2 separate regions of the Homo sapiens genome follow, and region 2 is linked to region 1. Evidence: fine-mapped expression QTL. A gene starts in region 1. The other region holds a variant in brackets. All regions are shown on one strand. Distances are from middle to middle.

Region 1 (15,620 bases):
CTAATCATACAATTTTTTAAAACCATTTACATGGGTTAATTAATGTAGCTCTTGAATGTTAATAACCATTAACAATATGGACCAGCAATACATAAAAACTATGAAGAATATGCTGTTGTTAGAAATAATAATGATTTAGTCTGATGCAGAACACATATGAACACACACAAAAAAGCCACATTTGGATTATAAAACATATGTCCACAACTAGGGAGAAATGCTTTCATTATTTCTAGGGAATTATTTCTTTAAATCCTTTAAGCAAATTTCCTTTAGAAAATGATAGGTCTTGGCCGGGCATGGTGGCTCACGCCTGTAATCCCAGCACTTTGGTAAGCCAAGGTGGGTGGATCACCTGAGGTCAGGAGTTCGAGACCAGCCTGGCCAACATGGTGAAACCCCATCTCTACTAAAATACAAAAATTAGCCAGGTGTGGTGGCAGGTGCCTGTAATCTCAGCTACTCGGGAGGCTGAGGCAGAAGAATTGCTTGAACCCAGGAGGCGGAGGTTGCAGTGAGCCGAGACCACACCATTGCACTCCAGCCTGGGTGACAGAGCGAGACTCTGTCTCAAAAAATAAATAAATAAATAAAATTAAAAAATAAAAAGAAAATGATAGGTCTTTTTAGAAATGCTGGACAAGTGAAATCCAATATATCTGTGAATATCATCTTGGTATTCAATCAATACTTGTTTTTATCTAATTGGTTTTATCAAAAACCACTGTTATCAGTAGAATACAAGAGTTTTTTATTGTTTAATATTTTTTTTTTTTTTTTTGAGACGGAGTCTCGCTCTGTCGCCCAGGCTGGAGTACAGTGGCACAATCTCAGCTCACTGCAAGCTCCGCCTCCCGGGTTCACGCCATTCTCCTGCCTCAGCCTCCTGAGTAGCTGGGACTACAGGCACCCACCACCAGCCTGGCTAATTTTTTTATTTTTTGTCTTTTTAGTAGAAATGGGGTTTCACTGTGTTATCTAGGATGGTCTCGATCTCCTGACCTTGTGATCCGCCTGCCTCGGCCTCCCAAAGCGCTGGGATTACAGGCATGAGCCACCCACCCAGCCGAGGAATACAAGAGTTTTAAACACATATGCTTTTCCTACTACTTGTATATTTTTAATGTATTTTAGAGTTTCAAGGTCTATTTAATGGCTATTTCAGGAATATTGCCAAAGAAGTCTGGGTGGTTTTAAAAAGTCTAAAATCTTGCCTATTCTAAAAATTGACGTATAAAAACTAATGTTAAATAATCGGAATATACAAAAAATAATAAAAAAATTGTTATAACACTGTTACCCAAAAGTTTCATTTAAAGCTTGTCCTTTAAATTTTATTATTCTGCTTCCTCAGAATTAAACAAGTTATACAGAAATAAACATATACTATGTTGCTGTTTCCAGATCATGTTAATAGCTATTTTACAATTTGATTATTAATAAGGTAACATTTTAATGTATTTTGGTTTCATGTATAAATTATTAAATTATTTGGATTTACTGGAGTTAGTGTGTAAAGCAGTTTTCATCTTAAACCATATGGTCTTTATAATAAAATAAATATGATGGAAATGACCCACTTTGTATATTTAACAGCATTTTCTGTCAAAGCAAGAGCCCATAGTAAAATGAAAATAGGACTAACTGCATAATAGCAGAAATCAGGAAAGCCTTTTAAAGCAATTTATTTCCTTTGAAAATGATTAAATATGAAACTGAAGTTAAACATGCGGAGGAAAGGGAAGTAGGAAACAAAGGTGAAAAAACAGAATGTCCTGATTCAAACATTATCCATAAAATATGGATATGTTTAAAGACAAATCAGAATACAGGACATTCTAGTCACAAATTTATCAGAAAAACTGAGCTACTAGCTAAACTTTAACAGAATCAGGAATCCCAGTGACGGCCCAAAATAACTAGCACAGTTTTGTAACAGTTTTCTAGAATAAAATTATCTACTTGAAACAACAGTTTATAATACATTTAGCAATGCTTTTTTACAGCACATGATATGACAAGTGAATGACCTGTATTACAGGATCTAATTCATGCAGTTACACAGGAAAACTATATATGTAGGAATAGATATAAACATGTATAGATATACTGATTGATTTATTTATAAAATTCATGGTTTGATGGTTCTTTCTGACCCTGCAGGATTAAGAATACAATAAACCTGATATGTTAATGAGGCCAAAAAGAGCACTATAATTGGTTTAACATATATCAATAACCCAGACAATTAAAAATCCTTTAAAGTACAGTCAAGTTTAGTGTAAGTGATATGTCTGAGGTAGGGAGGATCAAGAGCTAACTTCTAGAAGTCTTGCAGCACAAGAAGGAAAGTAAATATACCATAATATAATTGTACCAGTGGTTATTTTTAGAAAAATTATAGATCTTTCTAGAACTAATAGGGGGTGTTCCTTGGAGCATTCATACAGAAGATACTATCTTAACACCAAAAAAAAGGAGGGAAAAAAAAAGCAAAAAAGAGAGCATGACTTCTGACAGTTAAGTTTTATTTTTACTGTCAAAAAAATTAAAATTATATGACATTCTTGGTTATGAGAAAATGTCCTTTTGTAGTAATTATTAAAATCTTATCTATAATTAACAAAAATTAGTTACTTACCTTGAACAATAAAATACAACTAAGGAGACAATGACTATAAACAGAGTTGGCCTTTATGCATAGCAAGCAACTGTCTCTGTGGTATGGAGTTTCCCAAAATATCTCCCACATGGGCCTATTCTTGATGCCTGAAATTCCTTTGTAGTTGGTGCCAGTCCAAAATGCAAAGAAAACTTATAGAACTCTTCATCTTAATTAAGAACACTATTTATTATAAACTAGCTTTTTAGGTTCTTTGAATTCTTTATAATGTAACACATAGCTAGAACATGTTTGAAGAACATGTTGAAAATTGAGCTCAGAGACAAGGAAAGACAGGAATACAGATATGAATACAAAAGTCTGGTTTGAGAGGCAAGATGAAAGAGCAGGGTACAACCCTTGGGAAAAAGCGGAAGGTGCTACAAAAATGAGAGACAGGGATGCATAAATGGGGTTTTGTAAGGAAAATAAGGATAAACTTTTCCCTACTCTACATTATATAGGGCTGGTTTCTTTTATAACCAGCCCTACCCATAAAAGAGAAGTAATCTTAGAAATAAATTGTATGGTATCATTAGCTAAAATAAATATTTAAGACTTAATAAAAAAACTTTGATTTATATATTTATATTTAAGAACTAAAGTTTTCCCCCCAAAATAACCTTTACAGACTTGTCTTTCAATTTTAACATGCACTTATTATAGAAAATTTGAAAAATATTACAAAGTATATAGAAAGATTAAAATCATCTCTAATCCCTTCAGCCTGTAATACCATTGTTAACACTGGGGAGGGATGTTGACTTTTAGGTTTTATCTGAGTGTAAAAAATATATATAACAAAATTTGGATATTACATTGTTTCATATCTTCATTTTTATGTAATGTTATATTGTGATCATTTTTCCATGCCACTTAATACTCTTCATGGTTTTAAGGTCATGATGAAAACTAGTGGTTTCTCAGTGTTTGTTATTTTGGTGAATTCTTTTGATTTTAAACCTACTTTTACAGCAAACTAAGGAAAATTATTTGAAACTCCCCTCATCTGAAAAGCATATACCAAGCACTGAATGCAGTCAAGATTTCTGCTCTGAATTAAACAGTCTGAAAAATTTTCATTTCTCTTATTCAAAACATTTAACTGGGAAAGTAAACAAATAACTGTTAAAACTGAAAAGGGTCCAAGTGTTGGATCTCTGTTTGAACCAATATTGCAAAAGGTAGACACATGTCACAGTACTTATACTGTGTGTATAAAATACTGTTTGACGTTTAACTACAAGTGGCGTTTAGAAATTCTGGCCCCTTTAGGCCTAGGAGCCAAATTAGGCCCTTGGTTTAATATCATTCAGCTGGCCTTCAGACTTTTTTTTTTAAAGACACAGTGTCTATTTCCTGCCCCATCCTTCAAAGATAGGAGAGATGCACACGCACGTGTGTATGTGTGTGTGTGTGTGTGTGTGTATAAATATTAATTATTTGACAGAAGCATCCAGTGATGAGACTTGAGGGCTGTTCTTACTTCCATAGCATTATTTGGGAAAGAAGCAGTAATTAGTCCCTCTGATGACAAATTTAGCGCTAGAAGGAAGAAACAGAACAAGCCCCAAAGTGAATATGGTGAGAAAAAAATGAGAAGCTTAGGAGGACATACGGAGATGTCCAATCTATCCAGTACTGTACAAGGCACAGGCTGGGCAGATGTTAATTTCGGGATGAAGGAGTCCTTAAGGAAGCAAGTTGGTCAAGAGAGGAAAGGTTCAGAAAAAGAATAGGTGGACAGTAGATATCGGTTAGCCATAGAAGTCAAATGTGCTTTGGTATCCTAGGAAATTTGGTTTACTTAGAAGGAAGACCATACGTCTAAGGTTGAACAAGCAGGATTTAATTTTTATGGAGGACCTACTGTGGTTTATACCACAGTATATATGTTAGCTCATTTCCTTCTTCACAACATAAGTGCTATTTATTTTTCTTGTGCAGATGAGGATACTGGGAAATCGGAGTGATTAAGAAACTACTTCAAGGGTACACAGCTAGTAAATGGTAAAAACAAGATGCACATATAAGTCTTTCTGCAAAAACTGTATGCCTTTTCTACAATACCAAGGTGAATTAAATTGCAGAACTTAGTCTAATACTTTTAACCACATTATAATTTCATAAAGCAATCTACTTTCAGCTAACACAAAAGAAAGATACATTAAGTGAAAGAACAGTACAAGGGTGGGAAGACATTTAGAACAGCAATATCACTGAAAAAATTTAAACATAATTATAAATTATTTTCAGTAAAATAACAGTGCCTAAAATTTCAAAGCATTTCTAGAAACAATCTAAAGAGTGCTCTTTTTGTCTAATGAGAAACAAAGTTTTCATTATTTTCCTCTCAAAAGTGATTTGGTATCAATCATTAGAGTGATTCATATGAGAAAGTCTTTCTTCCTCCTCAAAAATAACCAGACAGTGTATTTTAAATTTCAAAGTAATTTTGATAGAAAGTATGAATTAAGTGAACTTAAAAGTTCCAGGGTTATTTTACTTTTAAGCAGTAACATGCCCTTATAAGGTGAAAAACAGTACATAGTACATTATACAGATATATTTTCTATTAGTATATTCAAAGAGTCAACTACAAGAGTAACAGATGATGTCTCATTTTAGTTACATTCTTGAGAGAATTCGTTTTGTTTAGGGTTTATTATTCAAAGCCAACACAGAATTTTTTATTTTACTTTCTAAAAAAGTTTTATTTAAATGGTGAAAACCCTACTTTAGGGTAATATAATCAAGATACATATAATAAGGAAAGTACTAATAAATAAAAGCTATACTATTGGTTTCCCAAAACGCAATGTTTTTGAACATCAGTGGAAAATGTGGATGCTTATTACGAAATCTTCAGTTCTGAATTTTGATTATGAAAAGTAACCACATTTGATCATCTTTTCAATGACTTTCACGTGATCCACGCTTTATGCTTTAGGGAAGCAAGAAAATGTTAGGTTATATAATTCAATTTTACTTAATAACGCATAATAAAATCTGGATTTAGAAAACAGAATAGGGGTTTATTTGCAGTACTGAAGGTTCGCTGTCTTTACAATAAAATTGACTTAAACATTCAAGTATTTGAACATCCTAGTTCCTTTAAATTAAGAATACTCAAGAGTTACCCGGTGGCTCACGCCTGTAATCCCAGCACTTTGGGAGGCCGAGGCGAGCGGAACACTTGAGATCAGGAGTTCGAGACCAGCCTGGACAGCATGGTGAAACCCTGTCTCTATTAAAAATACAAAACATTAGTCGGGCGTGGTGTCGCGCACCTGTAATCCCAGCTACTCGGGAGGCTGAGATAGGAGAATTGCTTGAACCTGGGAGCCGGAGGTTGCAGTGAGCCGATAGGCACTGCACTCCAGCCTGGGCAACAGAGCAAGGCTCTGTCAAAGAAAGAAAGAAAGCAAAGGAAGGAAGGAAAGGTAAGAAAAGAAAATAAAGAAATATACTCTTTAATATAAATTCACCTCATACTAGCAACTTAGGTATTGAACACCTGCAATATACGTAATCAAACTTTCCAATAATGAGAACATCTTGCACATCCACAGGTATTTCCAAGAATTGAGGCACAACGGAATAACATAAACCAAAAAGTCCACAAGGTGCATTGTCTGTCACACATACATTGTAAATTCAGTTCAAATGTTCATTCCCAATATTTCAACAACAACAACAAAATTTTTTAATAAAGTCATTCGTCAAAAAAGAGGCTGGCGCCTCCAAAATCAAGCTCCATCTAACTCCTGAGTCAAATAATGATATGAAGTACCCGAGACGGACCAATTTTTTTTTTGTCAATATTTAATCTGAGGCTTTGGAAGTGGAAGAAATCTTAAAATAGCCACTCAGTCTTGTTTCCAGCCTTCAGGCAGCTGAAATATAAACCCCAGGAACACAGACCCTCCCTTCAGCGAAAAGTGTATGTGTGTATGTTTGTGTTTAAAGGCCTATAGCAGTCAGAGATAGGATCACTGCCGTTTTAGCAGTTTAAAAAAAAAAAATTCTACTAGAGAGGAAAGAATGACACAATTTTCTTCGTCACAGGAAAGTGGGCCTGGGGTATCCCAGCCACCTTCGCAGACGCTAAGTTATGGAAAGCAGCCAAAATTCTGGTATCAGGATGAGGCGTCCCCATGGGTTCTATGGAAACGAGAGACGCGGGGGGCCTAGCGCCTTCCAGGCGGCGGGCCGAGCGGCAGAGCTGCGCAAGCAGAAGCGGGGGAAGTGGCTCAGCCCAGTACTGCAGAGGGGCGCTCGGTGGCAGTCCCCGCAGCGGCACGGGCGAAGCGTCGCGGGGTCTGCAGCTGCAGCCCACCAACTCCGGCGCCGAGCGCGAAGTCGGGAGAGCTGGAACGAACTGCAGCTGGAGAAAGCGCGAGAGCCAGACACCGCTGCCGCTCACCCCAGCCGCTTCCTTCCTAGCCTCACAGCCGGGAGGCAGAAACTTCGGAGGTACCGCCCGGCGAAGAAACATCCCCACAGAGACAGAATACACTGTGTCTTCCTAGCTGAGCCCCTTTACCTTCCCGGTGTCTGGGATGCTTCCTTCGGTGGCAGCGGCGGCAGGGGCGACGACTGCCGCTGCAGCACTCAACTGCTTCACGAATCCGGGCTCTGGGAAACAATTTCCCGCCGCGCGCTAGGCAGCCCCGGAAGCGATAGTACCATTTCCGGGTGGTTGTCAGTGACGCTCCGGAGCCGTCGCCAGGGTGGTAATACCTGGTGCAGAGCTTGAGTCTGGCCAGCGGGTCAGGCTCTTGCTAGATCAGCACCGGAGGTGGAAGACTGGTAAGTGATTTTACTGGGTTTTCTCCTGCGCCTGATATTAATGGCTGGCCGGGGCTCTGTGCAGCATTATGGCCAGCCCGAGAAGTGAGTGGGCGAGGGTGGAACCAGAAGGAGTCCCCATCAAACCCCGTGGCGCTTGACACCCAGTGCAGCTGGAGAAGGCCCTGGGATCCCGGCTTACCGTCTTATCCACTCGCAAAATCTGTCTCCGACTTGGAACTCGACCTCGGGTCACCAAGTGTCCCTGGGCGAGGCCGAAGACACCGTGTACCGTGACTCGGCGTTGTGCCGAGTTTCTCTACCAATGATCAACGAGTTTCCTATCTCCCATTGGCAGCGTTTGGCCACTCTTGATTCCTGAGTACTGTTTCCGTAGTTCTGGGGTGCCGTGCCTGGAAGGCAGGAGGTTGGCTGAAGAAGACATCTTTTACAAACATTTAGGAAGTGAGATGGGGAGGTTCCTTCCTGATTTAGAATTAATTGAAGGTTCCTCCCGCCATTTGAATTGGATGAGAAGAACGGTCTTTGTTTTCATGGCTGAGACATAAGAGAACAAGCTTGTAATTTCATGCTTGGGCATTAGATGCATTTTTGGAAAGCAGTGATCAGTAAGTATGTGTGCTTTCAGAAAGGAATGCTTGCGTTCTGCTCCAGGCTTTGTCGATAATGAAGGATTCAGGAGAATTTTGGATGGAGGTCTGAGGTAGCCAGAATAGTTGTAAAGAGAAATTGCTTCCGACAAAGGGATAATGTGAGGAAAGGTGCTCATTTAAGATTTGAAAGATGTGATGTAGTGAACCTTGGCGACTTCTCTTAAGTAATGCAATTTCTTAGGTAACTAGTTTTCACTTGCCACCTTATATTTAGATAATTACCTCCCCACCAACCCCCGTAAAAGGCAGCTGACTGTTATTTTTTCAAAACAGTCAGTTCCCGAAAGAGTTGTAGGTACTATTGCATTTTTTTTATGGGTATGCTCCTCATACCCATAAAAACATTTTCTTTATCGGAGCATACCGATAAAGAAAAATGCAATATGTTCAATTCAAGGCCCCTGTTAACACCAGGCCAGTGTCTTCTTAACCTTTTGAGAGTAATGCAACAAACCATATTTAGGACAGCACATTGATTTTCTGGCCTTGTTGGTTAATAATTCAACAAACTTATAATCGCCCCATTAATCCCAATCTTGACATTTTGTTGAATCTTGTATTTTTTCTTTATTTCTCCAGTTGAAAGTATTATAAATTACTTCAGGGATATTATGTATTATATCTGTACAGCAACTAGTTTTTAGAGGCAGTGATTTCTCTCTTTGAATTGCTCTTGAATGTAGCCAATCATTAATACTTACCCCAAGTAGATACTGTCTGCCAGGCACTTTACATTTATTATTTTATTTAATGTTTAATAAAAAAAGAAAATCACAAAAATTGTATTATTTCTATTTTGCAAAACATTTTATACTGAGACCCAAAGAGGTTGTGATTTTCCATAAATTATACAATTAAATGGCACAATTAAAATTTGAATCCAGTCTACCTGACTCTAAATTTTGGCTCTTTTTACTGTGCTCTATACCTTTATAAGTAAACATAACAGTATCATTATTTTCACTCCAGGTAAAAATGGATAGATAGTATGTCACATTTAGAAATCAAGTGGATAGCAAAACTTGAGGATAAAAGGGACTTAAGGGATGTGTTCATCACCATAAGGTAATTTTGACATCTAAATAATGCAGTTTCTTTAGTGCCTTTATCCTTGGCCAGTTTTATTATCCTAATTCAAACAAATGCCTATACTGTACATTAGCATAACACTTGGGGCAAATGCAGAAGATCTGGAGACCATCAGCAAGCATATTGGTGACTGAGTCCAGAGTATCAGCTAACTATCTCTTTAGACAGCTTTTCACACACACATTTGTATACATGTATATTTGTGTGTGCATGTGTGTGTGTGTGTGTAGGGAGAAAGAATGAGTAAATGAGCACAAATTCATAAAATTCAACTTTGTAATGATTTATAAGGAATTATTAGCAAAACTGTGCTGTTCCACTCACGTAACCCTCAAACAGATGGGGATTATCACATAGTTTCAGGAATATGCTTTATTAAACCTGCCCATCCCAATACCCAATTCTATATAGAGAAACAGAAATAGCCTAATTTTCAGAGAATTTACAAAAATTTAGTTGAAATGACCAATACTAGAAATGACATAGAAGTTAATTCTAAAGAATATCCTGTTTTACAACTGTATAGGTATAGCTAGCCTGAAATACTAATGTGTATTTGATTACATTGCATTGACTTGTAGGCAGATCCCGTAGGCAGATCTCAGGGATATTTTGCTATCAAATTTCAGTGCTTATGAAGTTTGGGATTATGTCTGTTTTGTTCGTCATCTCAAACCCAGCATCTAGCACTGTGCCTGGCGTGTAATAGAAGCTCAATAAATAAGTCAGGAACCATGACTCATGACTGTAACCCCAATACTTTGGGAGGCTAAGGCAAGAGGATTTGAATCCAGATCCTCTAAATTTTGGCTCTTTTTACTATGTTCTATACTTCCTTTAATAAATAAACATAGGTCACAGTGAACTATGATCATACTACTGCACTCTAGCCTGCACAACAGAGTAAGACCCTGTCTCTAAAAAATAAAAAATAAGCATTTATTGAATGAATGATTCCTTTTTAAAATGTTATTTATCCACCGAGAAGTATTTGTACATTTTTTAAAGGATTTACCACATAAATAAATATTTATTTTTACTCACCTTGCCCCTGAAATACAGTGTCCACTCCACACTCATTCATAAAAGGCAATGTGCTGTCCTGCAAAGAAGACTGGACTGTGAGACAGGAGATGAGAGAATATCTAATATTTTTCTGTGTTTATTCTCTGCTATTCAGTGTTAAATTACTCCTTACAGCACAGTGGGTAAGTATTATTATCCTCCTTTTACAGATGCTAAAACTGAGGCAAAGATAAGCTTTGTAAATTGTCGTAGGTTACGCATAGTCATTAAACACAGCTATGATTTGAATGAAGGGCTCTGATCCCAAAAGCGATAATCTTAACCACTTTGCTAGCCTCCAGTTGAATTTTTAATCCTGGTTCAGCTGCTAAATGTGTGCAAAAGCTCTGGGTATCATGTTTCTCATCTATAACATATAGGAGTTTGATGGATTATATTATCTGTAAGGTCCCTCCTACCTCAAAAATCCTCTGACTTTAGTTGACTCCTAAGTATTATCTGAATATAGCAGTTCTGGAGTGCCAGAAAACCCTCATCAATTTTGATGTGTTTTATGTAAGCTTTTATATGTGTTCACGTCTTCCACATTGGTGGACACACAATCATGTTTTTGCAATAGGAAGAATAGAGTTAAAAAAATCACAGCCATGCTTTTTTTTTTTTTTTTACCAGCTATGACACTAATAAGTCACTGAACCTTTGTGAGCTTATGTTTTCATATGTAAAATGGATCCATAGGATTGCTGTGAGCGTTAAGTGGGTTGACTTATAAAGCCTCAAACGTGTTGTCTGATACACAATTGCTGATAAATAAATATTGATTCTTTTTCTTGCTCAGTCTTGCAAGGATAAAAGATTAGTGGATATGAAAAATGCTTTATAAATTAGACAAAGGTGAAGAATATTTTCACTTACAGTCTACTAGGAGAGAGAAAGTTATATAAACAAATAATTATATGTAGGGCAATTTACATACATCATTGAACACAAAACATGGGAATGCAAAGAAAAGAGATTTTTTTTTTTCCAGGAGGGCAGATGAGGAAAGACCTCATAAAAAAGGTAATATTGAGTTTGTGCCATATAGGATGGAAAGGATTTTGGCAGGGGAACAAGAGGGACAAGTGTTCTACTGGAAGATGCAAAGGTGTCAGAAAACAGAAATAGTACCTAGGTCACTTTGGCTATGTAAGATGGATGAAGGCTGGTAATAAAGCTGAGGTAAAAAGCTGAGTTTAGGACAAGCTGTAGATAACTGTGGGCAAGTTAGAGATGTTAGGCTTTTAACGATAAGCAATAATCTGTGTGTATAACTAGGATGGGGTGGAGGATGGAGTTGGCATTTGTTTTCTTTGTTATGGAAAAACGCCCATTTGTTACAGAAACATTAGAGTGTACAAATATGCCAAAAAGGAAAGAGAAAGGAAGAGTGGCCCATGACCCCACCACTCAGAAATAACTTATGATTTTTCTCTGTATTACAGATTTGCATATATGTGCTTTTAAAATAAAAATGAAATAATACTGTCTATATTGTCTTGTGACCTGCTTTTTTCAATGTGCTATACCATGAATTTTTCCATGTCAATAAATTTGCTTCTATAAAATAATACTTAGGGCCTGTATGCTATTCAATTTTATGAATATGTTATAACTTTTAAACTGACTTCTTTCTGTTAAGTAATAGTACAATAAAGGTTTTTATAGTAAAATATTTAGACATATTCGTATCTATTTTCTTATTACAATTTGTAGAAGGAGAAATGGTCACCCACAGGATATGAACACATATAATACTTACATGTATTGCCATATTAATCAAATTTTTAATTGAAACTTGGTGCAAAATTCATAAGGTATGAAAGGGTATATAATGAGGCGTTAGCCTCCCTCTCACCTCGTTGTCCTCCTGACTCACAGCTAGCCCTTATAGCACCTTGTATGATTAGAAAAGGGCACCCCCTTCTGGAGGATCCATAACTCTTGGATATACACTGTGTAACTGATGCTACTTTTGTAAGGATTGGAAAAAGGCATCTTTTTCTCTATGGCAACAGCCCTGCAGGGACACATGGCTGGGCCAACAAAGTATGGGTTGGATTCAGCCCCTACTGACCTCCCTAGATTGAGTACTTTTATGACAGGTACTGCACCTGGCCTTTTTGACTATTTACTTTCTAAAAGCCAACACTAAAGCCAAATGCAGACTTTGTTAAAATACAGAAGACAAGATTGGCCGGCGCAGTGACTCATGCCTGTAATCCCAGCACTTTGGGAGGCCAATGCGGGCGGATCTCTTGAGACAAGGAGTCCGAGACCAGCCTGACCTACATGGTAAAACCCCATCTCTACCAAAAAAATACAAAAATTAGCTGGGTGTGGTCGTGGGCACATGTAATCCCAGCTACTCCTGGAGTCTAAGGCAAGAGAATCACTTGAACCCCGGGTGGTGGATGTTGCAGTGAACCGAGATCATGTCACCGCACTCCAACCTGGGTGACAGAGTGAAGGATTCTCTCTCAAAAAAAATACAGAGGACAAGGTCAAACTTTAGTGCATCCCTTGAAATACATACATCCCATATAAAAAGTTTTAACAACTATAAAAGTTCAAAACGAGACAATGTCATTTTGACTAATTAGGCAATGCAGTATAATGTAAACAACTGAATTCAGAGAGGACCTGGGGTTGAGCTTAAACTCATGAACATATAATGATAGCCTTGAAGAAGTTACTTAAATTCCCTGAGCCACAATTTCTTCATCTGTAAAGTAATACTATCAACTTTACTAGGATTAAATGTAATACTGTGTGTAGGTACACAAGCATCAGAAAAAAATTATTAAGGTCTCTAGTTTTGTTTTGTTTTTAATAAACTCACTGTTTTAAATTAGGGTCTGTGGCTCTAACTATGAAGTCAAACAGACTTGGATTTGAATCCCAACTCTGTCACAGTTGTGTGACAGTCACAGTTGTGTGACAGTGTGAAAGTTACTTTTCCACTGTTTCATTATTTGTAAAATGGGAATGATGATGTCTTCATAGGCCTTTTGTGAAGATTAAATAAAATAATGCATGTATAGAGTTTAATATGGTGCCTGGTGTAGTAAGGCACTTTATTTGTTCAAATTCTCCAAAAAGCAGATGCCAAGAGGAGGTAAGATGTACAAGATGTTTATTGGGGAGACTGCTTGTGAAGAATGAAGGAGAGTGAGAGTAGGAAAGAAATGCCTTCAGGCCTCAATGCACGTCTGACAGCCTAAAAAGAAGAGAAGGAAGGAAGAAAGAAGAGTTGAGTAAGAATATCAAAGTGCTACACTCTTCTAAGAAAGCTTCAATTAGGCCAGTGCAGAGTCCAAAAGCCAAAGTCATGTATTAGAGGAATCCCATGTTGCCACGGTATTCAATGTTAGGTATTAGTAAAAATGATCAACAGTTGTCATCTGCTAAAACTTACAAATACATTTGAATTTCAAATCTTGAATTTTACTCCCTGTGCCACCCCCTCCTGCCCTCAAGAAAAGTATAATCCCTACTGCCAGACATTGATACTAACATTTGGGTCATATGTTCTTACACTATCTTCTTATATTTTATAATACGGTTTTGTTAGCCAGAACAGTTAGGAATCAAAACATCTGTTCCCAGTAACAGTTTAGAAATGCAAACATTAGCTAAACAACTGATTTTTGGCATCATGTGGTTAAACACACTATTGTCTAAATTTCTAAATTCAGGTAGCCTATAAATATAGTGTAAATCTTTTTTTGTTTGTTTGTTTGTTTCTGAGACAGAGTCTCACTCTGTCACCCAGCCTGGAATACAGTGGTACATCACAGCTCACTGCAACCTTGAATTCCTGGGCTCAAGGGATCCTCCCACCTCAGCCTCCCAAGTAGCTGGGGCTACAGGTATGCACCACTATGTAAAAAAATTTTTTAATTTTTTTGTGCAGACAGGGTCTCACTGTGTTGCCCACCCTGGTCTCAAACTCCTGTACTGAAGCAATCCTCCTGCCTTGGCCTCCCAAAGTGCTGGGATTACAGGCATGAGGCACCATGCCCAGCCTCATGCCTGTAATCCCAGCACTTTGGGATCCATGGTTAGAATATTAGCCTAAAACTTGAATGTCTATTTGCATCTTTACCAAAGATACCTCTGTAGCCACAAAGGTAAAAATATAGTTTCATAGGATCCTTCCCCCCAGCCCCCACCACCTTTTTGTCATTTTTAATAAGTAAACGTAGAGATCCATAAGTTTAGTGCTTTTCAAATGGCAGGTTATAAGCCATCAATTTGGTTAGTCATAGCCTGTATTTTTGTTTCAGATACATGGTGGTTTCAGGATTGGGGATATAAAATGTATTTGTTATTGGGAAACAGCTGAATTTGAAAACAACTGATTTAGATTAACTATCATACACGAGGAAATGAAGATTAAAGAGGCGATTTAACATAATGGATAACTCAGGAAACATGTGACTTGAACCAGAGGCTAGGTCTTAAGAATCTAAATTTAGGGCTTTTTCTTTTTATCATGCTTCCTGGAAAAGGCTTCTTTTTTGTGCTATTAGTAGGGCATACAGTTATTCCAGTTGGGTGATATGATAGTGCTTTTCTGTCACTTTTGTTATTTGTTTGCTAAGATTTACTAAAAGACACTTCCCTGACTTTAGCCATGGTGTATCAGGGAGGTTGTACAGCTGCAGTTGTTTCTAGCAACTAGCAGTCATGCCACACCACCAGTTTACTGTCCATTTTCCTTCCAGGGAGCACAGCTAATTCAACACTTTAAGGAGTTTAAACTGAGCAGTGATAGGAACTCATTTTGAAGAGCGTTATACTGATGAGGTCTGAATTTTTGTAATATAGACGAGTATTTTGTGCTTCACTGTGTCATGACTTTTTTTTTAATCTTTTTATTTATATATATATATATATATACTTTTTTTTTTTTTTTTTTTTTTGCAGATAGAGTCTCGCTCTGTCACCCAGGCTGGAGTGCAGTGGAAGGATCTCGGCTCACTGCAACCTCCGCCTCCCAGGTTCAAGCAATTCTCCTGTCTCAGCCTCCCGAGTAGCTGGGACTACAGGCACACAGTCCATGCCCAGCTAATTTTTTTTGTATTTTAGTAGAGATAGGGTTTCACCATGTTGCCCAGGCTGGTCTTGAACTCTGAGCTCAGGCAATCTGCCTGCCTCAGCCTCCCAAAGTGCTAGGATTACAGGTGTGAGCCACCGTGCCCAGCCCTATGTCATGACTTTTCTTTTTTCTTTTCTTTTTCTTTTTCTTTTTTTTTTTTTTGAGACAGTCTTGCTCTGTCACCCAGGCTGGAAGGCTGGAATCCAGTGGCGCAATCTCAGCTCACTGCAACCTC
Region 2 (15,620 bases), 130 kb before region 1:
ATTTTTAGAAAAGAGTGTAGTGAGTTTTCTTTTCCTTCAGTTGCTATTAATCTCAGACATACATCTGTTGCCTCCATTTACTCCCCACTTTTGTTGGATCTCATTTTTTTCTTTTGAGGCCTCCATCTATAACACCTTACTAAACTTGTTTCCTGAAGACATTAATAACTTCACTTGATCCTCCTCCTTGGCAGTGCCTGTTTCCCAAGACTCCCTTGACCACCATTTGATATCCCCTTCTGTTTCCCTGTGCACTCATGTTGTTGTTGCTTTACTCTAACACTTTGGTTTTCTTGTGTCTCTGATGTTTGGGTACCTCTCTGTTTTGTTCTTCCTTGGAGACTAACTATCTCCTCCGTGGAGAGAACTCCAGAATCTTTACTTTTATTCACTTATTCATCCATCCATGCAACAAGCAGTGTGCATGTGGAATGTTCAAAGCACTATGCTAGCTGTTCTGAGGGATTTAAAGAGAAATGAGACCTAACTCCTCAAGGAGCTAGAAATCTCCATTTCTGCCTTTCGTCTCAAGTCTGTTGTCTCTTTCCATCCTCTTAGACATTGAAAATTGTCCCATCATAACCTCAGATTCTATATATTTCGCTCTAAACCTGTCTTCTTCCTCTAAAACTAACTTCCTTTCATGGCTAATGGATTTCTACCAGTAGCACAATTATTTTAATCATGAAGACATAAAAACTCAAATCATCTTTGATGATTCTGTCTGTAATTTGTAATCAAAATTCTATTGACTTTGCTGTTGTGATATTTCTTACTTTGCACCTTCCTCTTAGCCTCTGTTGAGGTCTGCCTTGGTATCTATATGAAATGTTCTTTCCGTTTATCTAAGACCCATCCATTTTTTAAGACTCAGCTGAAATCTGCCTCCTGCCACCCAATAAACGCTTCAGCCAATAGGAAGTCCCCTTCAGAACACAGAGTAATACTCAGTTGTATGTGTTTGTGTACGCCCATGTGCATGGAATTATTTGCTCAGCACTATGCTGAGGACTTGATGTGCGTTATCTCATTTCTTCTTCATGACAACTCTATTAGGTAGGTTCTGTCATTCACATTTCACAGATGAGGACAAAGCAACTTGTCCAAAGTCACAAACAAAGGCCGAAATTAGAAGCGAGTTCTATATAGACTCCAAAGCCCATACTTTAAAACAGCATGCCATATTGCCCTATGACCTTGAGGTATTATTTATTCATGATCTTATTTAGCTTTCACATACCTTATTTCCACAAAAAAAAAGTCATAAATTCTAGTAATCAGAACTGAGTACTTTAATACATAACATGCACAATCCTATACAAAAAGTAAACATTTGATTGAATATTGAAAGAATAGAAGGATACATATGAATAAAATATAGCAATTCAGGCATCAGAGTCCCATAATCACTCAAAGTAGCCATAGTTGTGTGCTGGGTATTCTTTAGCAAAAGAAAAGTGGCTGTCAAAGGATCTCATTTTGCCAACATCTTTGTCATCTCCCCTCTGATATTTATACCTCCCGTAATTAACCGGAATTGCATCTACTATTGCTAGAATGGTAGAAAAAGGGAGTTTCGGCTTTCTATGTGTATAATTCATTCTTATCGCCTATTCACCAGCCTCTGAGACACAGCCAGTGCCCATAATGCTATAGATGACACCTCGTTGAGTGCAGTTCCTATCTTCATAGAGCTCCACCGTCTCCTGTCAGTCACTCTCCTTTTCATTCCCATAACCACCACCTAATGTCAAATCCCACAGACCTCAAATTAGCCACCTTCTAGCTACTGTCAGCTATAACACATCTTACAATTGCTGCCAACAATCACTGAAGACTTCTTGAGGCAGTAGAGCATAGTGGTTAAGAGTATGGATTCTGGAACCAGGCTGCTATGTGATGCTGGGCAAGAAATTTTACCTCTATCCCTCAGTTACCACATCTGCAAAGTGGGGTTAATAATTGTTCCAACCTCATAGGGTTGTTGTAGGGATTAAATGACTGTATATTTAGTGAAGCTTAGAACAAGGTCTGGCTGTTGTCGGAATTTCCTAGGTCTAATAGGAGTAATAATATTGTTATTGTTATAATCATTAGCAGCATCACTGTCGGCCATGGGTGCCCAGGAAAATTGTCAAGTTGTTAAATGGAACAGAAGGTCTGAGTAAGAATAGATTTTAGAGGGAAAAAAATTACTTCTGTTTCTAACATGTCGAGTTTGAAATGTCACCAGGACATCGAATAAGGTATTCTAGCAGATGGTAGAAGTAGAAATCTAGAGTTCAAAGAAGAGGTTATAGCAGAGACTTTTAAATTTGAGAATTACCCATTAGAGATACAAAGTTATTACAGAGGCAGAGGAAGTTGAGTATGAGAGGAAGAGGGCCGAGGACAGTTCTGTGGAGAATGCATCTATTTAAAGGGCAACGGGAGGATGAAAAACAGAACATATACTGAAAAGGAGTCTTCAGAGTGATAGGAGGGGAATCCGAAGGGTCCCAAGCATGGAAACCACATGTTTTAAGAAATATATCGCTAGAATGAAGTATGTCAAATGGTCATGGAAGATGAGCACTAAAGAAAAAGTCATGAACGCTGGTGATTGGATTAGTTGTGGTCGTGGTCCTCGGAGTTTCCCTAGTGTGGTGAGAGCAGAACGCAGAAGGCAAATGAGAGGCAGCTGGTGTGAACTCTGGTTTGAGAGCTGGTTTGATTCTGAAGCGGGGAAAGAGAGGAAAGTGGGAATTAAGGAGTTGGAAGGACCTTGGGGCTCATTTTAGTATTAATACTAGAGAGGTCACTCACTCTTTAAAAGGAATCAGTGGGGAAGGAGGAATCCAGAGCTAGAAGAGGGGAGGATCAGGGTCTCAGAAGTGATGGCAGTGGCAGAAGGAAGGGGTCAGGGAAGAAGCTCCCTGGGGATCCTCCCGGTGAGGAGCACAGGTGTTGAAGAAGCACACATGGCCTCAGCTCTCTCAGGAAAAACAAAGAAATGGTCACCTGCTATGAGTGTGAATGTTAGGATGGGAGGCTCTGGAGAAAGTGGGAGGACTGGGAGGACTGTGACAGCCAGTCAGCATGAGCCAAATGGACAAATGCCCAAGTCACTGTCAAGGCCTCCCTGGGGCTGCATGACACACCAGGAATGTGTGGTCGCCAAAACGGGCAGTCCACAGCTTGGCAGCCCAGAATGAGTTGTATAAAAACAGGATAATACAGAAAGAACATAAAGACAGGTCCAACAACATCCCTATAGGTTGCAAGGGAAGGAGACAAGTGAAGCCAGAACCGAATGGATGGGCTGGGAGAACGGTGAGGTGGTAGGCAAGGGAAAGGTCAAAATCAGTGGGATGGGGAAAGGTGTAAATGGCAGGCCTAGGTAATTGTGTTACTGTGGACCTTTACATCTGTCTGTCTTGTTTGTTTATACCAGAAATTTCTGCCTGGATAATAAAAAAAGGATATGCTTTTAAAGTTAAACGTACTTTGGCACTTCTGAAAAGACTGATCGGACTGTTTAGTAAAGAAAGCTGAATTTTGATCCTCCATCTTCTTTAACTTTTTACCTATGGCTTTGGATGAAGTCTGCTTTAAAAGAAGAAGAAAAAGAAGATGTCAAAGAGTTGTAAATTGCAGAATGACATCTACCATGTGGTTCTTCTGCCACTCTCACTAATATTGCTTAGCATTCTGACTTTTAAAAATAACGTGGTTATTGAGATTTAAAACTCTGTGGATGCAGAATACATTTTTGAAAATAAGACTTTTTACTATGCATAGCCAATTATAGTCCACTGAGGAAATGATGTATTTTTCCAATACATTTTTATTATGTACTTAACTGACGGACCTTCCCAGCTTCTTCACAGACATTCCACTCCATCAGCCACTGTTCATAATGTGCTTCTTAGGAATCTACTTAAATTTGTATTTACCTGTGAGGCTGGATTGGCTCCAGAGGACACAGTCCTTTTTTCCTTGAGTAAATTATACATATTTTAGAAAACTATCTAAAAACATATTTATCTCATATGGAATTCTGGCCTCAAGGGTAATTAAGACCCGTTTTTAAAAAGCATAGCCAATACACTTTAACTCTCTCAGGTAAATAAGATATATTTTATAATCATCTAAGAGCGATTTCTCTCTTCCTTTCCTTCTCTTTCCCTTCTCCTGTAACTATCACCATGCCTCTTTTAAACACATATTTTGTAATTATTTCAATGTTTCCTCAGATACTGCTTTTCTCCTGGGGGCCAGTGCACCAATTACGCTTTCCTTCCACCCCATGCACTGGCAACTGAACACAGAAGAGGCATAGTCTACCTGAAGTATAATTTCTAGAAGAGAAGTTACTTTGTGAAGATCCAGGCCCTTCTGCATATGCATGTTCATTGGTCCTCCCATTTTAAAAAGGTAGTTTCAATACTGGGTAGTTTAGAGCTCAGAGTAGAGTTTGTTTGCTAAGAGAGGCATAATTGAATGAACACTATATTTTGAGATTAATTTTAAAATGAAAATGATACCTGAAAGTAAATGTGCAATAGCATCACTGTAATTATTACAGAAGCAACTACACACCACAATCATTATTACAACAAAGGAAATAAATGAAATTTCCTAGCAATAACATGATTTCTCATTTAGCTGTTTTGCACTTCTAAAACAACCTTTACACGATGAATTTTTTGCATCCAATGAATAATGAAAATGCGCAACCCATTCTTCCTTTTCCCTATAAGAATACTGCAGTATTCCCCAGAGGCGGAAGGCAATAGGAAGCTATATGGCAATAATTTTTAGGGGGTTTGTGCAAACTGCATGACTAGAGAACTAAAAACTTAGGAGAAAAGGTGTTTCCTAGAAATTGCAAGATAAGTGTAGGGAGTAGAATAATGCCTGGTTTGTTTCTTCTCTCTCCATCTCTGAGGTCCAATCCTTTACATTTCATAAGACTGACTTCTGCAGTTGCTGTGGATAAATGTCACTGCCATATGCACTCCTCCACTGTGGGGTCAAAGTTTCTACTGGTCTCTTCTCAGTCAGGGTAATTAGGACCTGAGAGTTCATCCTGCTCTACTTCAAGCCACAGTGAACCCCTGAACAAGATCCTCTGGGTTTATGGTTTATATAGCCCTCCTAATCAAAATATTTGCAGCTCTTGCTAAACTTCAAAACTTGGATGAGGGCTTTCTGTTGTGTTAGTGGCCTAAATCCCAAACAATTTTCCTGCCCAGATTAGTCTTAGAATTCAGATGACCATAAATCCCAGTTACAGAGTACAGTCCCTGTTTACACCTGTTATCCTGCTATAATCAATAGCTTTCACTTTCAGAGGTGTCCCTGTTTGGATGATAAGTACTATGTGATCTCTACTTACATGAAGTCTTTGGACTGAATTTTGTTTCCTTGGATGTTTTTGTGTTTGTGCTTTTTATGGCTATGTGCTTTTTATGTCTATGAAGGGTTATATTTTCTTTTTTCATACTCAGGTAAGTTTGAGTAGATTTTTTTAAAAAAACATCCTAGTTTTCAAAATAACCTAGGAACCAAGTTAAAACACAAATTCTTTAGCCCCACTTCAAGAGATTCTGATTCAATAAGGTGGAACCTAGGAATTGTTTTAACTGGGTGGTCCTTAGGCACCTGAGTTTGAGAATTTTAGCTTCAAGCACTTGCAAACTCAGCCTACCTATTTGACCCTTAACCTCTGAACTTAGGTATGTACAAGGGGCATACTTATTTCAGGATACTCTGGCGAACATTTGGTCAAGCTGATCAGCTGCAGTTTGGCTGAGTAATACTGAAAGGGTTGAACAACTAGTATTTCCCAAGCTAGCTCAGAGGGCTCATCCTCACCACTTTGTCATTGTTAGAACTCAGGTAACCACTTTGGATAAAATCCAGTTACAAGCGCTCTTCCCTGACTCTCCTGCCAAACACGCAGACACTGTTTCAGCCGGGTGAGATAATTCACCTACCTGAGGAAGCTATTTTGAATATATATATATATATATATATATATATATATATATATTTTATTATTTAAGTTTTAGGGTACATGTGCACAATGTGCAGGTTAGTTACATATGTATACATGTGCCATGCTGGTGTGCTGCACCCATTAACTCGTCATTTAGCATTAGGTATATCTCCCAATGCTAACCCTCCCCCCTCCCTGCACCCCACAACAGTCCCCGGAGTGTGATGTTCCCCTTCCTGTGTCCATGTGTTCTCATTGTTCAATTCCCATCTATGAGTGAGAACATGCGGTGTTTGGTTTTTTGTAAGGCGACTGGTAAGTATGGATCGAGAATCGTGGCTTATTTCATCTGGAACGTTGATCCTAGAACAAAAGACAAGTCATTAAGTGATTCAGCTCCCCCTTCTCTGTTCCTTCATGCAGCATTGTGCGCAATCAAGGACACATGCCATTCAACAACGGCTCTGCTTTGCTGACACTCTCAAAGTCATTCTTTCACAGCTGTCAGGGCTCTGTACGCTTTATGCATTCCTTCTGGGCACTTGATCCTCACATTCCACCAGGCAGGAGAAGCAAGCACTTGAACAAAAGGAAGCAAGGACTCAGCTTCCCGGAGGTCAGGGCTATAGCCCTCGCACATATTAATAAACTGCCATTTACATTCTCCAGGTCACTTTTATTAGGCTTTCAAGGTCACCTGCCTTTGAGAAGTCTTAGAATTTTTTTTCTTCATGCTCATCCTCACCCCCTGTCTCCACCCCACCTTGCCCCTTCTCTCATACACTATCTCATATGCCTGGGCTCTGTAGAAGGAAATTAAACTGTGATTTGGTATGCTAAATTACCTGAACTAAAAACTATAATTTGCAATATTATTAAGTCATCACTGTCATGGATTTCAGTTTCTTTCTGTTTAAACCCCTAACTCATAGCATCATTTTTTCTATTACTAAAGGAGAAAAGGAGAGAAAGGCCCTTGGTCGCTCTACTGACTTATCACTCTGTCAGGAAAGTTATATTATGCTTCTGAGTGATTACTTCAGCCCGGCCAGTATTTAGTTAAAACCTCCACCTTGCATTCAAGGTGTGCTTGTTCTTGTTTAAGGGCATATAGGAGAGATATGGGGACTGTTGGGTCAGTTGCAGGGATTAGAAAGTCCACAATTCTCTTTCCAAAGGAATCCTGCCCAGGTTTCGGTTCTGGATGACGGGGACATTTCCTTTTTGTATGCTACTCCCAGTCCTTTTGGAAAGACTTGGATATTTCCTGCTAGCTGGCAGCATCGATGGCCTTCACAATCACCAGATGCTTAATCCCCTTTTGCCATATTCTCTGTGTTGCTGCTTTGAATTAGGCATCAGTATTTTCTGTAAGAATAGACCAGTCAAGATGACTAGGTTTTGCTGCAGTAATAACTGCAAGTCTTGGGGGCTTAAGACCACAATGCTTTTTTCTTGCTTATACTATCTGTCGATCCAGGATGGGCAGAGGGGACTTC[A/T]TGCCACATCTTTGTTGTCACCCTCACGTTAAGCCCTAAGCTCAAATGTTTTGCTGTTTGAAATACTGCCAGTCACCATGTTGGAAAGAGAAGCACTGGCTCTTAAAGCTTCCTCCTAGAAGAGACATAGACCATTTCTGTTTGCCTTTCATTGGTCAGAGCAAGTCACTTTTAGCAGATAAGGAAGTGCAGTCCTACTACAAGCCCAAAAAGAGATGGCCAGAATATTTGTATATGACCTTAATGATTATACAATTGTCTAGTAGGTTTATGATTCTAAAATAATGAAAGGAGAGAATGAGAATAAAAACCAAGTTTCATTTGCCCCCCAGATATGTAATTTGAACCATTGAGAAAATAATGCTTCCCCCTGTACGTCAATAACATGACAAAAGCAAAGTGCAGACTTTGGTAACTAGGGGAACAGCAATGATGAGATATGATCACGGGTTCTTGTGGCGGGTAGCTCCCTCTGCGACTGCCTAGGCATAAACAATAGCATAAGGTGGGATGTACTCTGTAATATGTCAGCACTGATCTAGGGAAAGGGAACAAGGGACTGGAATATGCTATTTTCTGTCTTTTTCTCATTCAGCAAGTTCTTCTCTCTCTTTCTCATTCAGCAAGTTTTCTACTAAAGGACGTAGATTTTACCAAGTGATTGTACAGACTGAAGTAATAGTTTTTCGGGCTCTGGAGTCAGACTTCTTTTAGTTTAGATCCCAGCTTCATTTGGTACCTAAATGATCTTGGGTAAACTGCTTAACCTCTCTGTAGCCTCATTGCTTCCATGTGTGGAGTGGATATAGTAACAGTGCTTACCTTACAGCATTGATAAAATGTATTTATAGCTCTTGGCCCAAGGCTTTAGAGATGTTCTCTAGCAGGAGAATCACTGAATTTCATTATTCACTTAATACCAATAACTATAGATTCTGAAATTTGGGAAAAGTAGCTCATTTTCCACTGCCTTGATATTTTTTTTTTTTTTTTTTTTTTTTTTTTTTTTGAGATGAAGTCTTGCTCTGTCACCCAGGCTGGAGTGCAGTGGCACGATGTCAGCTTACTGCAACCTCCACTTCCCAGGTTCAAGTGATTCTCCTGCCTCAGCCTCCTGAGCAGCTGGGATTACAGGCACATGCCAGCATGCCCGGCTAATTTTTGTATTTTTAGTAGAGACAGGGTTTCGCCATGTTGGCCAGGCTGGTTTTGAACTACTGACCTCAGGTGATCTGTCTACCTTGGCCCCCCAAAGTGCTGGGATTACAGACGTGAGCCACCACAGCTGGCCGATAAGATGTTTTAAATATTTCTTTCATTCTTCAAAAGTAGGTTCCAGGGCACAGGGTTGCATATATCTTAAGTGCCAGGGGATACCACCTAATAAGACACTATTGCAGGTGTTTTTTGCTGAGTCATCCACAGCAAAGGGTACATCTGTCTGTGCAAAGGAAATACTTTTTTCTGTAGTCTTCTTGATGATAGATTGGCCTAGCAAAAATTTTACAGGCTGGTGAGGATTCTGAACTTTCAAGGTTTGTCTAGTTATTTAAATATGATGCATATAACCTAATAAGACATAGATGCTCAGAATCAAAACATAACTTCAGATCATCACATAAGTCAAGGACAAGAATGCTCTGGGGCCACAATTACAGCAGAAGCATCAAAAAACAAAACAAAACTGTATTTCTTGACCTTCTAGTGTCAGCTCATCTCCCAGGCTTCTAATTGCATTGAGCGCTATTGCAGACGGTGGCCAGTCTGTGTAGTCAGTCCACCGTGTCCAGTCAAGGTAATATCCTCTTGGATAGTAAAATATATGAGGTTCAATTTGCTTCTCTTTTTCTACTTAGTTTGAAGACTCAACAGAGAGCTGGAAATGTAGTGCTACAGTGCTTCTGGCTCAAGAAAGTCTTTTTGGAATCTATTAGTATCATCAGTGTCCTGAGACAATCGAGAAACTTAGAGTGCTGATAACTATGCTCAAAAAGTAAATGTGCAAGGCAATGTTAACTATATTTTCCATTACATTCCAAGTCTATTAATAGAAAGAACAAAGATCAGAGAATAAAAACTTGCCCCACAGAAATTTTATTTCCAGTCAAAGATTTGAATCTAAATTTTTCAGAGCATGGGACTAAAGAGATCAGGCAATCATGGGTTTTGTCCTGTAGCCACAAAGGATGTATGTACCTATTTAACCATGTCAAAATGTTTCCTGGTAAACTAGGGGGCCAGGTTAGAAAGTTGGCAGGGAGCCATGTACTCAGAACTACTCTGAGAAGCCTTAACGGACTGCTGTCTCGACAATGTTTCAGTAGTTCCACAGTCGTCACCCTGTGCTCTTTAGCAAGCTCTGAGTCCTAACTGTACATGCAACTGGCATGTGTTTATCTAGTCTGGAAAATGCTTTCCTATAAAAGATGAAGAAACTGAGTTTAAAAGTCCACATACCTTTGGAAGACACAGAAGATGGAATAAAACCCACATCAAATTACAGAAACCTAATCATCTGGGTCAAACAGTATAATTTGTCAATAGTATCAAAACTTCCTTATGGTTTCTTTCTTGAGACAGAGTTGCACTCTTGTCACCCAGTCTGGAGTGCAATGGCACAATCTCAGCTCGCTGCAACCTCTGACTCCTGGGTTCAAGCAATTATTTTGCCTCAGCCTCCCAAGTACCTGGGATTACAGGCGCGCGCCACTACGCCGAGCAATTTTTATACTTTTAGTAGAGACGGGATTTCACCACATTGGCCAGACTGGTCTCAAACTCCTGACCTCAGATGATCCACCTGTCTTGGCCTCCCAAGGTGCTGGGTTTACAGGCGTGAGCCACCATGCCTGGCCTCCTTATAATTTCAGAAGCTCAATTTATTACAGAATAATTACCCCCATCCAGTTAGTATAATAGTTAAAGACCACTAACCCACCAATCAGAAGACCTCGATTCTAGATCCGCCTCTGTTGCAATCTGGACTTTACCTCTCTTAGCTTTATATATGAAAAGGATTATTTGGGCTAGAACAGAAGTCAGTAAACTACAGTCCACAGGCCAAATTCAGCCAACTGTAAATAAAGTTTTATTGGCATACAACTACACCCATTTGTTTTCTTACTATCTACGGCTGCTTTCATGCTTTCAATGAAGGGGTGAATAGCGGCAACACAGATTATGTGGCCTGGAACACCTAAAATATTTACTATTTAGCCCTTTACAGAAAAAAAAATTACTTCTGAATTGGAAGCTATCCAAGAGATAGCTCCTCTGTCTCCTCATCTGCAAAATGGGAACAAAAATAATACTTGCCTCATAAGATTATGAGGATTAAATGATGGTTCTTAATACAGTTTCTACATAGGAAATGATAGGTAACATATAATTATATAACTGTTAAAATGGTGAGCATGACCATTGTCAGAATTGTAGCAATCAGTTTTCCATTACAGAAAAAATACTTGCTGCTGTCGTGCTATGCTACGATATTACATGGAACAGAAAAGATGGCAGTTCACACACAGAACTCCTGGACAACTGAAATAACAAAATCCAGTACAGGCAGAAGATATGGATAAAGGCAAACTGTATCTCCAGCCTAAAAAAAAAGCTGGAAACCTACATTATCTAATTATCAACCTGATACTTGAGCTAGACTTTGAAGGCTAAGTCAGATTCAAACAAGCCAAAAGAGGAACTTAAAGGTATTCAAGGTCAAGGGGAAGTGGAATTCCCAAGAGGCCTTGAGAGGGCAGTTTGTAGAAGAATTTAGCCACAGCAAAATATACTGACGCAAGAGTTGTGAGTGACAGGGTAAGAATGGTTGGTTGGGACCAGGTTGTGGAGTTTTGAGCACTGGAGCAAGGAATGTAGACAGTTTCTTATGTGCATTGAGATCCACTGAAGTTTTCTGAACCTGAAAAATATTAGTATTTCTAGAATAATTTACCTATCTTTATGACATGGAATGCATGAGAAGACAAAGAAACAGGAAATTAAGTTCATTTTAAAGAGATGAATTTCAGTTTTGTCTGCACTATTACATTATAAAAATGTCTTATATTTGTTGTTTATATTTGTTCTTATTCCCCTTTGTAAAATTTCACTTAAGCCTACTTTACCTACTGTATTTAAAATGGAGTAGTAGCTAATGCACAAATATACAAATGAAGTCATGGTTTTTATTCTTTCTGTAACTACTTAAAGAGCATCATTTTACATATATCTCAAAACATTCATAATATTAGCACTTATTAGGGGTTTACCGTGTAAAAGATAGGAGAAAATGAGTCAAACATGAGTAACGCCTTCAATCTGGGAGGGGAAATAAATGACATAAAAGAATTAATAGAGGGCTGTGAGTCATTTGAGTATTCAGAAAGGAGTAGGAGGCAGAAAGGGCTCCAGTCAAGTGTGGCGGATATTGTCTACCCAGTGTTTATTTCCCCATTTTCCCTTGCTAATGGAAGACGGACTTTGTACATAATGACAAAGATTCTGCCTAAATCCTCAGTTTTCTAAGGTTTCATTGTATCTATGAATGACTCTTTAATATAGTTCTGGCCAAAGAGCTGGAAAAGGATGTGTTCCGGGGGTTTCTGGGAAAGTTTTTTACTTTCTTGATAACATAGGACAGATATTGCTGACTCCATCCTTCCCCCTCTCATCTACCTTTGAATGTGAATGCAATGCTTACAGCTGGGGCAGCCATATTAACACCATGAGGCAATAAACATAAGGATGAAGAAATGGAAAGACAGAAAGTTCTTAGGGCCCAAATGATCACTTTGAACATCTGGTACAATATCAATAACCTGACTTCTGAACTTCCTATTGCATGAGGAAAATTAACTCTACTACCTAATCTACTACTAGAATATTCTGTTGCTTGCAGCCGAGCACTTTGTGCTGCTTCTCTTCTGTAAATATGTTTTTCTTCAATGAGTACTTATTTCTTCAACACATTTTTCTTCAAGTTTCTATTAAGCACCTATGTGTCAGGCTCAGTGTTAGGCACTAGAAATAAATATAATGATGCCTCCCTTAATTTTTCTCTGCAAGAATACCTGATGATTTTGAAGATACTCAAATGGAGAACAGTAAAATGACTCTTTCCTCTCCACCTTTCTTTCATATCGCCTAACTGCCCTCTACCCCTACCAGCTCATCTGCAAAATGGGAATAAGAGACAAAAAGAGACAAAGTGAAAATGAGGCTAAAAGAAGTCAAATATATGTATTACACATGCCTCCTCCCCATTCTCCCAGAAGAAATGGAAACAAGTGGACACTCTGTAAGAGAACAGGAAAGCCAGTGCAGCTCCTTTATCCCTCCTCACATCTTGCACCAAAGAGCACACTCTCCGAGCTGTGGAGCAGCTATGGAATCTCCACCCAGAACATTATAATTGACCCATTTTGGGAAAAGGTTTGTTCACTTGTGGGCATACTGGTTATAGACAGAAAGGCATTATTAAGCAAGTCCTCAAACCTGAAGCCCTAAACTTCCCCTTAGACCTTGCTGCACTCAGGCGTATCCAGTAAGAAAACTATGGTCATGAGAAGTGGCTGGGAAACATTCTTACTCTCTGTGGGTGGGAGCATGTCATAGGACTACTCTGGAGTCTTCCTTCTCTTGTTGTTTCAACCATCTTAAAAGCAATGGTTATCTGACAAGAAATGCTGTGTTAAGGCTGTGCCCTTGGACTTGTCCAAGTTTGCACAGCACAGGCAGGGCAGGATTTGAATCCAATGTTAAAGCCCCTTACTGTATTTTGGGAAATGAGCTGAACACAGTTTTAGTCTTGGTATCAAATCTCGGGATGTAATCCAGTCAAGAACTACCTATTGGTGGCTGGGCGCGGTGGCTCACACCTGTAATCCCAGCACGTTGGAGGCCGAGACGGGCGGATCACCTGAGGTTGGGAGTTCGAGATCAGCCTGACCAACATGGAGAAGCCCCATCTCTACTAAAAATACAAAATACAAAAATTAGCCCAGTGTGGTGGCACACGCCTGTAATCCCAGCTACTCAGAAGGCTGAGGCGTGAGAATCCCTTGAACCTGGGAGACAGAGGTTGCAGTGAGCTGAGATGGCACCACTGCACTCCAGCCTGGGTGACAGAGCAAGACTCTGTCTCAAAAAAAAAAATGTTAGTGAAACCAAAACTGAGATCCATTTTCAGAACTTGACCAAGTTTGCATAACGCCAGCAGGGCAGGATTTGAATCCAGTGCTAAATCCCCTGTCCATCTAATTAGTCCGTTATCCATGCTTCTTGCTCCTTGCTCCCTGTGCATTTTAGAAGTACAGAGGCTGCTAACTGGCAGCTAAGGGGCTGAATTCAGCTGTGGACAGGATTTTAAAACAGTCTTCAAAAATCAGGAGAAGCTGAGCTCAACGGCTCACGCCTATAATCCGAGCACTTTGGGAGGCCAAGGTGGGTGGATCACTTCGGATCAGCCCAGGAGTTAGAGACCAGCCTGGGCAACATGGCAAAACAAACAAACAAACAAACAATAACATTAGCTGGGTGTGGTGGCGTGCATCTGTAGTTCCAGCTACTCCGGAAGCTGAGGTGGGAGGATCACTTGAGCCCGGGAAGCAGAGGTTGCAGTGAGCTGTGATGGTGCCACTGCACTCCACCTTGGGTGATGGAGCCACATCCTGACTCAGAAAAAGAACAAGAAAAATCAAGAGCTCTCATGGAAAAATGTGGATTTTGGCCGGGCACAGTGGCTCACACCTGTAATCCTAGCACTTTGGGAGACCGAGGTGGACAGATCACAAGGTCAGAAGATCGAGACCATCCTGGCTAACATGGTGAAACCCCGTCTCTACTAAAAATATACAAAAAATTAGCCGGGTGTGGTGGCAGGTGCCTGTAGTCCCAGCTACTCGGGAGGCTGAGGCAGGAGAATGGCGTGAACCCGGAAGGCGGAGCTTGCAGTGAGCCGAGATCGCGCCACTGCACTCGAGCCTGGGCGACAGAGGGAGACTCCATCTCAAAAAAAAAAAAAAAAAAAAAAAATGTGGATTTTGAGCTTCTCTTGAAAGACGGAAAGTTCTGGCAACATTGGGCCTGGATTCCAACATGGCCATGATGACTGGGATGCCCTCTCCATGGGCCCCATGCTCTCACCCAGCCTGGCCTGTGCAGGCGTTTCCGTTTGTGTCGGATAGCTCCTTGTTGGCACCTGTCATAAAGCATTTTTCACTTTCTCTCTTATCTCACCTTCGTGAGGCTGCAAGCTTCCTTTTTTATTTCTGTCTTCTCTGCTGTGTTTTTCCTCTCTCTAGCATGGAGTCAGTGCTTGGCATATCATAGACTCTCTTTTTTTTTTTTTATTGAATTGAAATATAAGCCTGCAGATTTGCTAATAAGTTCAACATTTAATACTGCTCCAAATACAGCTTTTAGGTTAATTTTAGTATAGCCAATTCTTGCTTCGTCCCATTTATAGAAAAATAGGAGTGAGAAGCCAGTGAATAATCCCCCAGATTTTTTTTTTTTTTTTTTTACATTGGGTTACATCAGTGTTTTCATTAGATTCTTATTAGATGTTCGTACTTGATTGCTCTGTTTTGGTAGATTAGGAAATCACATTTTATTTTCCCTATGAAGTCTTCCGTGCTTCTAGGTTAGTCATCTCCCCACCTTTCTTATGCCTCTATTGTAGAATTTATCAGATAGTATCCTAAGGATTTGTTTACCAACCTGTTCCCTTACAGGCAGGGACTGTGCATTATTCATTTTCGTTATCTCCCCCAGCCTAGCAGATAATAGGTTTTCAATACAGTTTCAATGAGTGAATTATTGCCTGAAGTAGGTACACAATAGATAGAAGATATATATTGAAATTTCTTTAGTCTGACATGAAGGAACATAGACTTTACTTCCTCAAGTTAATCAGTGGTTTTGATAGTTTAATATAGTACTTTTCTTTGTATTTCTTTTCAGTTAAAAATGTAATGTTAATCCTTAAACAGCAAAGAGATATTCTGTCAAATTAAAAAAAAAAAGAAAAAGGCTTTAGAAGTTTCTATGCATTCTTCTTTGGTGTTGGTTTTCACAGGCAGTAATTGGGATCATTAGCTCATGATTCTCTTTCCAAGGCAAGCTCTAAGACCCAGGGA

Alleles and levels. Positions count from the first base shown, and alleles are read on the strand shown. Sizes are in standard deviations (SD) of each study's normalised expression.
In carriers of allele A in region 2, the expression in monocytes of the gene that starts at base 7,305 in region 1 tends to be higher than with T alone (large effect, 0.84 SD a copy in Fairfax 2014).

What was found. PIP is the estimated chance that this variant, and not a neighbour inherited with it, causes the effect. A credible set is the group of variants that fine-mapping cannot tell apart.
Region 2: its variant is the best candidate, but not a certain one, in a credible set for the expression of SLF1 in monocytes (Fairfax 2014, PIP 0.71).

The regions. Positions count from the first base shown.
Region 1 is chr5:94,610,354-94,625,973 of GRCh38, reverse strand. SLF1 (SMC5/6 complex localization factor 1) reads right to left here and starts at 7,305. Exons shown (of 21, transcript NM_032290.4): 1 at 7,209-7,305. KIAA0825 reads left to right here and starts at 7,370. Exons shown (of 21, transcript NM_001145678.3): 1 at 7,370-7,474. RefSeq lists enhancers at 6,584-6,693, 7,084-7,263, 7,574-7,753, 7,492-8,356.
Region 2 is chr5:94,742,526-94,758,145 of GRCh38, reverse strand. The region is part of intron 19 of MCTP1 (multiple C2 and transmembrane domain containing 1); the gene reads left to right. Among named protein-coding and RNA genes, the nearest start is that of SLF1, 130 kb to the right of the region's middle. The variant A/T (reference allele first, on the strand shown) is at 7,483.